3 separate regions of the Homo sapiens genome follow, and regions 1 and 3 are each reported to be linked to region 2. Evidence: microRNA targets listed by miRTarBase, many of them from high-throughput screens and not tested one by one. Region 2 holds a microRNA gene; each other region holds the end of a gene's coding sequence.
Evidence for each region. The annotated mature microRNA hsa-miR-4283 reads UGGGGCUCAGCGAGUUU and lies in region 2 at 1,001-1,017, opposite strand. An mRNA with a match to its seed (bases 2 to 7 or 8) in the 3' UTR can be bound and repressed. Matches are read on the target gene's strand: a 7mer-m8 pairs with bases 2 to 8, a 7mer-A1 pairs with bases 2 to 7 and ends in A, and an 8mer does both.

Region 1 (3,344 bases), not on the chromosome of region 2:
TCCAGAGTAACTAGGACTACAGGCATAAGTCATGCCCAGCTTCTTTGAAGACTTTCGTTCTCAGTGTGACATTACGGAGGATGCACAGGAGCCTCCAGGAGGGCATACCAGTGTGACTACTCCCCACCCACTCGCCCTCCACAACACAGACAAGAAGTCCAAGCTCATAGTAATGTAAAACCATTTGTTTAATTCTAAATCAAATCACTTTCACAACAGTGAAAATTAGTGACTGGTTAAGGTGTGCCACTGTACATATCATCATTTTCTGACTGGGGTCAGGACCTGGTCCTAGTCCACAAGGGTGGCAGGAGGAGGGTGGAGGCTAAGAACACAGAAAACACACAAAAGAAAGGAAAGCTGCCTTGGCAGAAGGATGAGGTGGTGAGCTTGCCGAGGGATGGTGGGAAGGGGGCTCCCTGTTGGGGCCGAGCCAGGAGTCCCAAGTCAGCTCTCCTGCCTTACTTAGCTCCTGGCAGAGGGTGAGTGGGGACCTACGAGGTTCAAAATCAAATGGCATTTGGCCAGCCTGGCTTTACTAACAGGTTCCCAGAGTGCCTCTGTTGGCTGAGCTCTCCTGGGCTCACTCCATTTCATTGAAGAGTCCAAATGATTCATTTTCCTACCCACAACTTTTCATTATTCTTCTGGAAACCCATTTCTGTTGAGTCCATCTGACTTAAGTCCTCTCTCCCTCCACTAGTTGGGGCCACTGCACTGAGGGGGGTCCCACCAATTCTCTCTAGAGAAGAGACACTCCAGAGGCCCCTGCAACTTTGCGGATTTCCAGAAGGTGATAAAAAGAGCACTCTTGAGTGGGTGCCCAGGAATGTTTAAAATCTATCAGGCACACTATAAAGCTGGTGGTTTCTTCCTACCAAGTGGATTCGGCATATGAACCACCTACTCAATACTTTATATTTTGTCTGTTTAAACACTGAACTCTGGTGTTGACAGGTACAAAGGAGAAGAGATGGGGACTGTGAAGAGGGGAGGGCTTCCCTCATCTTCCTCAAGATCTTTGTTTCCATAAACTATGCAGTCATAATTGAGAAAAAGCAATAGATGGGGCTTCCTACCATTTGTTGGTTATTGCTGGGGTTAGCCAGGAGCAGTGTGGATGGCAAAGTAGGAGAGAGGCCCAGAGGAAAGCCCATCTCCCTCCAGCTTTGGGGTCTCCAGAAAGAGGCTGGATTTCTGGGATGAAGCCTAGAAGGCAGAGCAAGAACTGTTCCACCAGGTGAACAGTCCTACCTGCTTGGTACCATAGTCCCTCAATAAGATTCAGAGGAAGAAGCTTATGAAACTGAAAATCAAATCAAGGTATTGGGAAGAATAATTTCCCCTCGATTCCACAGGAGGGAAGACCACACAATATCATTGTGCTGGGGCTCCCCAAGGCCCTGCCACCTGGCTTTACAAATCATCAGGGGTTGCCTGCTTGGCAGTCACATGCTTCCCTGGTTTTAGCACACATACAAGGAGTTTTCAGGGAACTCTATCAAGCCATACCAAAATCAGGGTCACATGTGGGTTTCCCCTTTCCTTGCCTCTTCATAAAAGACAACTTGGCTTCTGAGGATGGTGGTCTTTTGCATGCAGTTGGGCTGACCTGACAAAGCCCCCAGTTTCCTGTGGCAGGTTCTGGGAGAGGATGCATTCAAGCTTCTGCAGCCTAGGGGACAGGGCTGCTTGTTCAGTTATTACTGCCTCGGAGCTCCAAATCCCACCAAAGTCCTGACTCCAGGTCTTTCCTAATGCACAGTAGTCAGTCTCAGCTTCGGCAGTATTCTCGGCTGTATGTTCTCTGGCAGAGAGAGGCAGATGAACATAGTTTTAGGGAGAAAGCTGATGGGAAACCTGTGAGTTAAGCCACATGTCTCACCAGGAATAATTTATGCCAGGAAACCAGGAAGTCATTCAAGTTGTTCTCTGAGGCCAAAGACACTGAGCACAGCCCAGAGCCAATAAAAGATCTTTGAGTCTCTGGTGAATTCACGAAGTGACCCCAGCTTTAGCTACTGCAATTATGATTTTTATGGGACAGCAATTTCTTGCATCTCTACAGAGGAAGAAGAGGGGGAGTGGGAGGGGAAGGAAAGAGAACAGAGCGGCACTGGGATTTGAAAGGGGAACCTCTCTATCTGAGGAGCCCCCACTGGCTTCAGAAGCAACTTACCAAGGGGTATTTAAAGACATGAAAATTTCCAGAAATACCATTTGGTGCATCCCTTTGTTTCTGTAATATTAAACTCAGGTGAAATTATACTCTGACAGTTTCTCTCTTTCTGCCTCTTCCCTCTGCAGAGTCAGGACCTGCAGAACTGGCTGAAACAAGATTTCATGGTGTCACCCATGAGAGATGACTCAATGCCAAGGCCTGAAGTTATAGAGTGTTTACAGCGGTGGCGATATTCAGGGGTCATCGCCAACTGGTCTCGAGTTCCAAAGCTCTGATGAAGAAACAAGACTCCTTGATGTGTTACTGATCCCACTGATTCCAGGAGTCAAGATTAGCCAGGAAGCCAAACACCAGGAGTTGGGGTGGCACGTCACCAGTCCAGAGCCCTGCCACGGATGTAGGCAGGAGCCCAGCATTAGGCAATCAGGAGCCAGAACATGATCACCAGGGCCACAAATAGGAAGAGGCGTGACAGGAACTGCTCGTCCACATACTGGGGTGTCCCAGGGACAGCTGGAGAGACAGAAAGGAGAAAACAGGCTATTAGAACACTGCAGCTATGCACACTGCCCACTCAGGCCAGAAGTTGACAGCATCAATCTTTATCTCTTTACAACATCAGAATCCTACACACAAAAAGATTTCTTTTTTTTTTTTTTGAAATGTAGTCTCGCTCTGTTGCCCAGGCTAGAGTGCAGTGGCACGATCTCAGCTCACTGCAACCTCCGCTTCCCAGGTTCAAGCGATTCTCCTGCCTCAGCCTCCTAAGTAGCTGGGATTACAGGTGTGCGCCACCAAGCCTGGCTAATTTTTGTATTTTTAGTAGAGACGGGGTTTCACCATGTTGGTCAGGCTGGTCTCGAACTCCTGACCTTGTGATCCGCCTGCCTCAGCCTCCAAAAGTGCTGGGATTACAGGCATGAGCCACCATGCCTGGCCTTTTTTTTTTTTTTTCTTTTTGAGGTGGAGTTTTGCTCTTGTTGCCCAGGCTGGAGTGCAATGGCACGATCTCGGCTCACTGCAACCTCCACCTCCTAGGTTCAAGCGATTCTGCTGCCTCAGCCTCCTGAGTAGCTGGGATTACAGGCACGCACCACCACACCCGGCTAATTTTTTTTTTGTATTTTTAGTAGGAACAGGGTTTCACCATGTTAGCCAGGCT
Region 2 (3,344 bases):
GATCCCACCACTGCACACCAGCCTGGGAGACAAAGCAAGACCCCATCTCTTTAAAATAAAACATAATAAAATGTGTGGGGGGAGGAGAGGCCGGGCACAGTGGCTCAGCCTGTAATCCCAGCGCTTTGGGAGGCCAAGGCAGGTGGATCACCTGAGGTCGGGAGTTCCAGACCAGTCTAGCCCATAATATGGTGAAACCCCGCCTCTACTAAAAATACAAAAATCAGCAGGGTGTGGTGGCGGGTGCCTGTAATCCCAGCTACTTGGGAGCATGAGGCAGGAGAGTCACTTGAACCCGGGAGGCAGAGGTTGCTGTGAGCCGAGATCATACCTCTTTACTCCAGCCTGAGTGGCAGAGCAAGACTCCGTCTCAAAAAAAAAAAAAAAAGTTGGGGGAAGGAGAGAAAAATAGAGAGCCCAGTGGGGCAACCCCCCACCCAGCCCTTGCCACCTGCCACTGCTCCAGCCGGGCTGTTCCAGGCCAGGAAGCTATGCCATCTGCTTCTGGCAGAGATCAAACTTAATTCGTTCCCAGCTTGTTAACTTAAAGCCCATTAGAATCTTTCCCGTCAATCCGTACACGCAGTGGAGATCAGACAGAGATGGGGTGAAGGGCCCTGCTCAGGACACGGTTCCCTGGGGAGGCAGAAGGAGAGGGGGCTGGCTGGCTGGGCTTTCAGGGGACGAGAGCCTCCCACCTCCTTAGTCTCCCTGGGTGCAGGGAGTGGCTTTCATAGAAGTCAGCTCCTCTCATTCGCACAGGGACCTGGGTACCAGTGAACCACCTTTTGCAGACCAGGGAGCCAGCTGGTGAGTGGTGAGGCAGGGGTCCCACTGAGGAATGGTGGGTCTGATAGCATGACACCAGACATCATCATGGTGACACATTACTGCATTTCTGCTCTCAGCAATTCCAAGACAGGGTCAGGACTGGGCCACCTTATGGTGGGCCCAAGGACCAAGGCTGGCAAGCCTGACCATGGACAGAAACACCCCTTGCAAACTCGCTGAGCCCCAGGATCAGAGTCCCTGGGCCGTTCTGTGTCAGCCCCATGTCTGCCTTTGCCGGGACAGGACACCACCTGCTTCCCCTGCATTCAGGCACCATGGAGTCAAACTTGCAAGAGAAAACGAGACCCACGGCCAGGCGTGGTGGCTCATGCTTGTAATCTCAGGACTTTGGGAGGCCGAGGTGGGTGGATCACCTGAGGTCAGGAGTTTGAGACCAGCCTGGCCAACGTGGCGAAACCCCATCCCTACCAAAAATACAAAAATTAGCCAGGCATGGTGGTGCGTGCCTGTAATCCCAGGTACTTGGGAGGCTGAGGCAGGAGAATCGCTTGTACACAGGAGGCGGAGGTTGCAGTGAGCCGAGATCATGCCACTGCACTTCAGCCCAGGTGATGGAGCAAGACTCCGTCTCCAAAAAAAAGAAAGAAAAAAAGAAAACGAGACCCAACCATCTGGGCCAAACAAGCAAATTCAATCAACAAATTAAGCCCCATGATCCTCTCTGGAGAGGGCAAGGCAGCCTGTGTGCGCTGAACGGCAGGGCTCTGCAGGAACAGGGAGGGGCTGGCGCTCACCGCACCAGCTATGCGCCAGGCTCTGGGCTAAGAGTGTCCTCTGCTCAGAACCTCACAGTGACTACAGGAGGGGAGACATCCCAGACAGATGGGAAGCCCAGGCTCAGAGAGGTAGAGGAGCTCACCCAAGTCACACAGTGAGGCCAGGCAGATTCTGGTTCCTCCCCAGGCCCCGGTCCCTCCCCAGCCCGCGGTCCCATCAGCCCTGCCCGGTTAAGCTGCCCCACTGGACGCCCCCACTCTCATTCCAGGCCCCTCTTCCTGAAGACCAGAGAGGTGCGCCCCAGGCCAGGCTTCTGGGACTGGGGCCCCAAGCCATAGGTGGCCTCCTGGAGCTTCATCCCCCAGGACACCCCAGGCCGGAGAGGTGCGGTAAAGTCTTTCTGGGACTGTGGGCAGCAGCTGGAGGCAGGCCCAGGACAGGAGGAGCCTCCTGGCCCAGCTCCAGGAGCTGTCGGCTAGAAGGAGCACTTCATTATCAGCTGGGCTGCTGTGAAGGAGGTTATGGGGAAGGGAGGCCCAAGGGACCCGAGGTCAGCCTGGAGTCCCCTTTCCAGCCGGCTCCAAACCCCTCCATGCAGCTGGGCACCCCAGGCCCTGCCTGAGCCTATGAGGTGCCTCCCCACCCAACCCCCACTGGAAGCACCAGCCATACCCAATCATGCCCATGCATCTGTAAGGTGTAAGGACTAGTGTTGCCTCCTCCAGGAAGCCTTCCCTGACTGCTGCATGGTAGGAGTGACTCTGAGCACCCTGAGCACACATCATCTCATGGAATCCTCCCTGTGACCTCTGTGGGAGGCTCAAGGGAATGAGGCCCAGAGAAGTGAAGGCAGCTGCCCAAGGCCACCCGGTGTGGAAGCTTGAATCAGCTCCTCTCTGGGCCTCGTGACAGGGCTGGGTACTGAGGAGGACCTGATAAGTGTTGTTGAAAGAATTCTGTCAAAAGGGCTGGGTGAAGGGACTACTGTTGGGGACGGAGGGGCAGGGATGCTGCCCAGGGTGCAGCCGCCACCCTGTTGACCCCAGATGAAGGCAGGAAGGATGGCTAGATTCCCACAGATTCATCCAGTCCCTGAGCACCTACATAATAGCTCCTGTTTTACGCCTTTGGCATTAACGTGCCCATTTCACAGATGAGAAAACTGATGCCAGAGGGCCTGAGGCCAGTGCAAGATTCCCAGCCGGGCTCCAAGGGAGCACAGAGCCAAGACCTGAACCAGGTCTGCCTGGGCCCCGAGCCACTGTCCTTCCCACGACCCCAGGTCAGCCAAGGATCCTGGCCTTACCTGGGCCTTACCTAGTTCTTACCTGGGACTTTCCTATGCTCCTTCTAAGGCCTCTCCCCGTGGCATCAGCGTCTGCCCGGCATACACACTACTCGGAGGAGCCTTTGTACTCTCTATTTACAAGAGGAGGCTGTGAGCAAATTAGCAGGGTAACCAGGGAAAATGTTTGGCGTCCGTGGGTGAGAGTTGGAGCCATCTGTTGCCAAGTGCTGGGAAAACACCGGAGCACTCCCTGGAGCCGTGGTGCCCGGCAGAGCTCCAGGAAGTGGGACCAGGCACCTGCAGGCTGTGTGTCCTGGGGCAGGGTGCTCACCCTCTCTGGGCCTCAGTGTCTGGATCCGTAAAACCTGCGGGTCTGTCCAGCCTCGTGATTCCAGGATGCTCCCTGTCTCCTTTCCCCTCCTGCCCCTCTGCTCCTGGGCTCCGTACATCCTTTCTGTGCCCCCACCCTGAGACCAAGCCCTTCCTG
Region 3 (3,000 bases), not on the chromosome of region 2:
CCTGCACCTTTCCTTACCCCCTTTCCCCCTTGGCTCTGGCTGAGTTCTGTGGGATCTTGGTTACAGGTGCAAAGCAACAGTGAGGAGGAGCAGAGTCAGAGTCGCTGGCCCAGCAGACCCAGGCACCCCCACCACCACCAGACTTTTGCTGGCAAAGACTCGTGAAGTAAGTGGGCCTCTCTCAGGCAGTTCTCAAACCTGGCTGCACATTGTAATCAAATGAGGAAGGTTTTTTTTTTTTAAACCCATAATAAAGGGTCCCACATTCTGTAATTCTGATTTAATTGGAAACCAATGACTAATTATTTTAAGCTTCCAGGTAATTCTATTATGGCTGGAAAATACCTCTCTAGATCAATGATGCCCAGGCTTTGGCAGGCATCACAATCACCTGGAGGGCTTGTTAAAATACAAATGACCAGATCCCAGCTCCCAGAGTGTCTGATTGAATTGGCCTGGATAGAACCAAAGAATTTGCATTTCTAAGAAGTTCTCAGGTGATGCTATTGCTGCTGGTCTGGTAATCACAGTCTGAGAACTGCTGTTCCAGGAGACATTGTGTAGAACTTTAATATTCAAACTGTAGTGTACAGATACAAGGAGCATCAGCATCCCCTGGGATTTTGTTAGAAATGTGGACTGTCAGCCCCCACCCCAGACCTAATGAATCACAGTTTTACCAAGATCTTTAGGTTAGATAATTGATTGCATATTGAAGTTTGAAACTCATTGTAGTAGAAGTTTTGTAACAGGTGAGGACCAGCCATGGAAATCAATATCCCAACACCTGCTTTCAGCTATGTTCTAATCAGCCCACATCATTGAACTCAGAGCAGACTCCTCAATGTACCTCACAGCTATGCTCATTTAGGGTCTGAGCTCCCTTCTGCAACTGTGGTCTGATGAAGGTAGCTCTCCCTCCCCTCCTCAAAGCAGGAAATGAATTTCACATTGTTATTTATTGCAGCTAAAATTTCTTTCCTCCAGATATGAGTTTTTCAGTATTAATTTTTTCAGAGATATCTCTTATACCTTTAAATAGTTTGGCCAGTAATTTATTATTTAAACTAATGAAAATTAATCTTTCTGTAGTTTTAACCACCTATCTGCTACAACCACAAAGAAAATGGCATAAGGGATAATGGTATTTTCCCCAGATAGTATAAATTAAAATCTTTATTGAATTAAGTAAATAAATCTTGCTTAGAGATTCCTTTATTTTGGATATCTTGGTACCATTTTCTACATTTTCTAGTCTAATTGTTTTCTTAGTTAATACTCCAAAATTTCAGTGGTACTTGCTCAGACACACAAAGATATTTACAATTCTAACTGTTTTAATTCTAATTCTCTGTGGTTTTAGGAATCTAATCACTCTTGTTTCTCTCTTACCTACTACCTACATCTCAGGGTATATGAATCATATGTATGTATTTAGTCACAAAAGAGGTAAATAGCAGAAGGCATCAATATGTCATATGCACTTCAAGAAGTTTCAGATGGTTTCAGTTGCTGGTCTGGCATGTTAGGAGCTAGAAGCGGCCACTCCACCCAAACAACAAGTAAAAACCTGAACAGACTGAAAAATTAGTAACCGTTCTAGACCCATCAGAGAAGTGGGTCACAGGGCAAACCACTTCTCCTCAAATTAGAGAAATAGGCAAATGCAAAGATTTATGACTTGTTAGAGCAAAAACCCCAAAGCATAAACTCCCCCAGGAATCAGAACCACGGTAGAGAACCCGGACAATAACCGAGGAATTACTGGATGCTCAGCATGGACCAGTCTGAGAAATAAAAACTCTAGGGAGACCCAGTCATTGGGAGGCCCCTTGTTTCTGGGAGTCTTACTTCTAGGAGCTCAACCATGTTCTCACAGGAAATACTGGAGAAAAATCCCCTAGTGTTTCCCGCAGGGGGCGGGAGAAAGGAACCATTTTGAAATGCAGCAGAGCATTCTATTCCTCTTAACAAAGTCTTCCCTCGGGAGAAACTAGATACCAAAAACCTAACCGGATGAGGTTTTATCAGAGACTAACCGACCTGAAGGAAGGGAAACACCCAACTCCTGCCTACTCTAGCCATCCCGTCCCATTAAAGGGGACAGAGAGGATGAGAAGCACAGGTGAGAGTCACAATCCAGAGGCACAGTCTCACTGGAAGACTGAGACCTAACCATAAGACCATGGAACGCTTCCCTTCTCCCTAAACCTTACCACCACATTACTAAAAGCCTATTTACATCAATTTCTTTTACTCAGTACATCGCGTCCAGTTGTAAAAAAAAGACATAGTAAAAGGCAAAAACAGGTTGAAGAAACAGAGAAAACGTTAAAACCAGTCTCAGATATGACAGGGATGTTAGGATTATCAAACTGGAAATTTAAAACAACTAAAATGATAAGGGCTCTAATGGATAAAGTAGTCTGTGCGCAAGAACAAATGAACAGAGAGATGGAAATCCTTAGAGTAAAAAAAATGCTAGAGATAAAAAATGGTGTCACAGAAATGAGGAATGCCTTTGATGGGCTTATTGGTGGACTGGACATGGCTGAGGAAAGAATCTCTGAGCTTGAGACTATAGCTATAAAAACCACCAAAACTGAAAAGCTAAGAGAAGACTGAAAAAAATATAAGAGAATATCCATGAAATGTGGGACAGTTACAAAAGGTGTAACATATGCATAATGGAAATTCCAGAAGGAGAAGAAAGAGAGAAAGAAATAAAAGAAATATCTGAAACAATAATAATTGAGAATTCCCCCAAATGAATGTCAGATACCAAACCACAGATCCAGAGAGCTCAGAGAACACCGAAAAGAATAAACACACGCACAAAAAAACGCAAAAATCTACACCTAAGCTTATAATTTTTAAACTACAGAAAATCACAAGTAAAGGGAAAAATCATAAAAGAAGCCAGAAGGAAAAAACACCTTACCTATAAAAAAACAAAGATAAGAATTACATGCAACTTCTCCTCAGAAAATGTGTAGTATA

Region 1: miRTarBase lists RNF185 as a target of hsa-miR-4283. Seed matches in the 3' UTR shown: 8mer at 1,387-1,394, 7mer-A1 at 1,067-1,073 and 7mer-m8 at 412-418.
Region 3: the mRNA of TESPA1 is a reported target of hsa-miR-4283. The part of its 3' UTR that is shown has no 7-base or 8-base seed match.

Annotation. Positions count from the first base shown.
Region 1 is chr22:31,203,840-31,207,183 of GRCh38, reverse strand. RNF185 (ring finger protein 185) reads right to left here. Exons shown (of 7, transcript NM_152267.4): 7 at 165-2,695. The coding sequence ends at 2,598. Among named protein-coding and RNA genes, the nearest start is that of LIMK2, 6.8 kb to the left of the region's middle.
Region 2 is chr7:63,618,773-63,622,116 of GRCh38, reverse strand. It overlaps MIR4283-2 (microRNA 4283-2), which reads right to left and starts at 1,027; the gene lies at 948-1,027.
Region 3 is chr12:54,958,334-54,961,333 of GRCh38, reverse strand. It overlaps TESPA1 (thymocyte expressed, positive selection associated 1), which reads left to right. Exons shown (of 11, transcript NM_001136030.3): 10 at 67-166. The coding sequence ends at 165. Among named protein-coding and RNA genes, the nearest start is that of TESPA1, 25 kb to the left of the region's middle. RefSeq lists an enhancer at 1,964-2,013.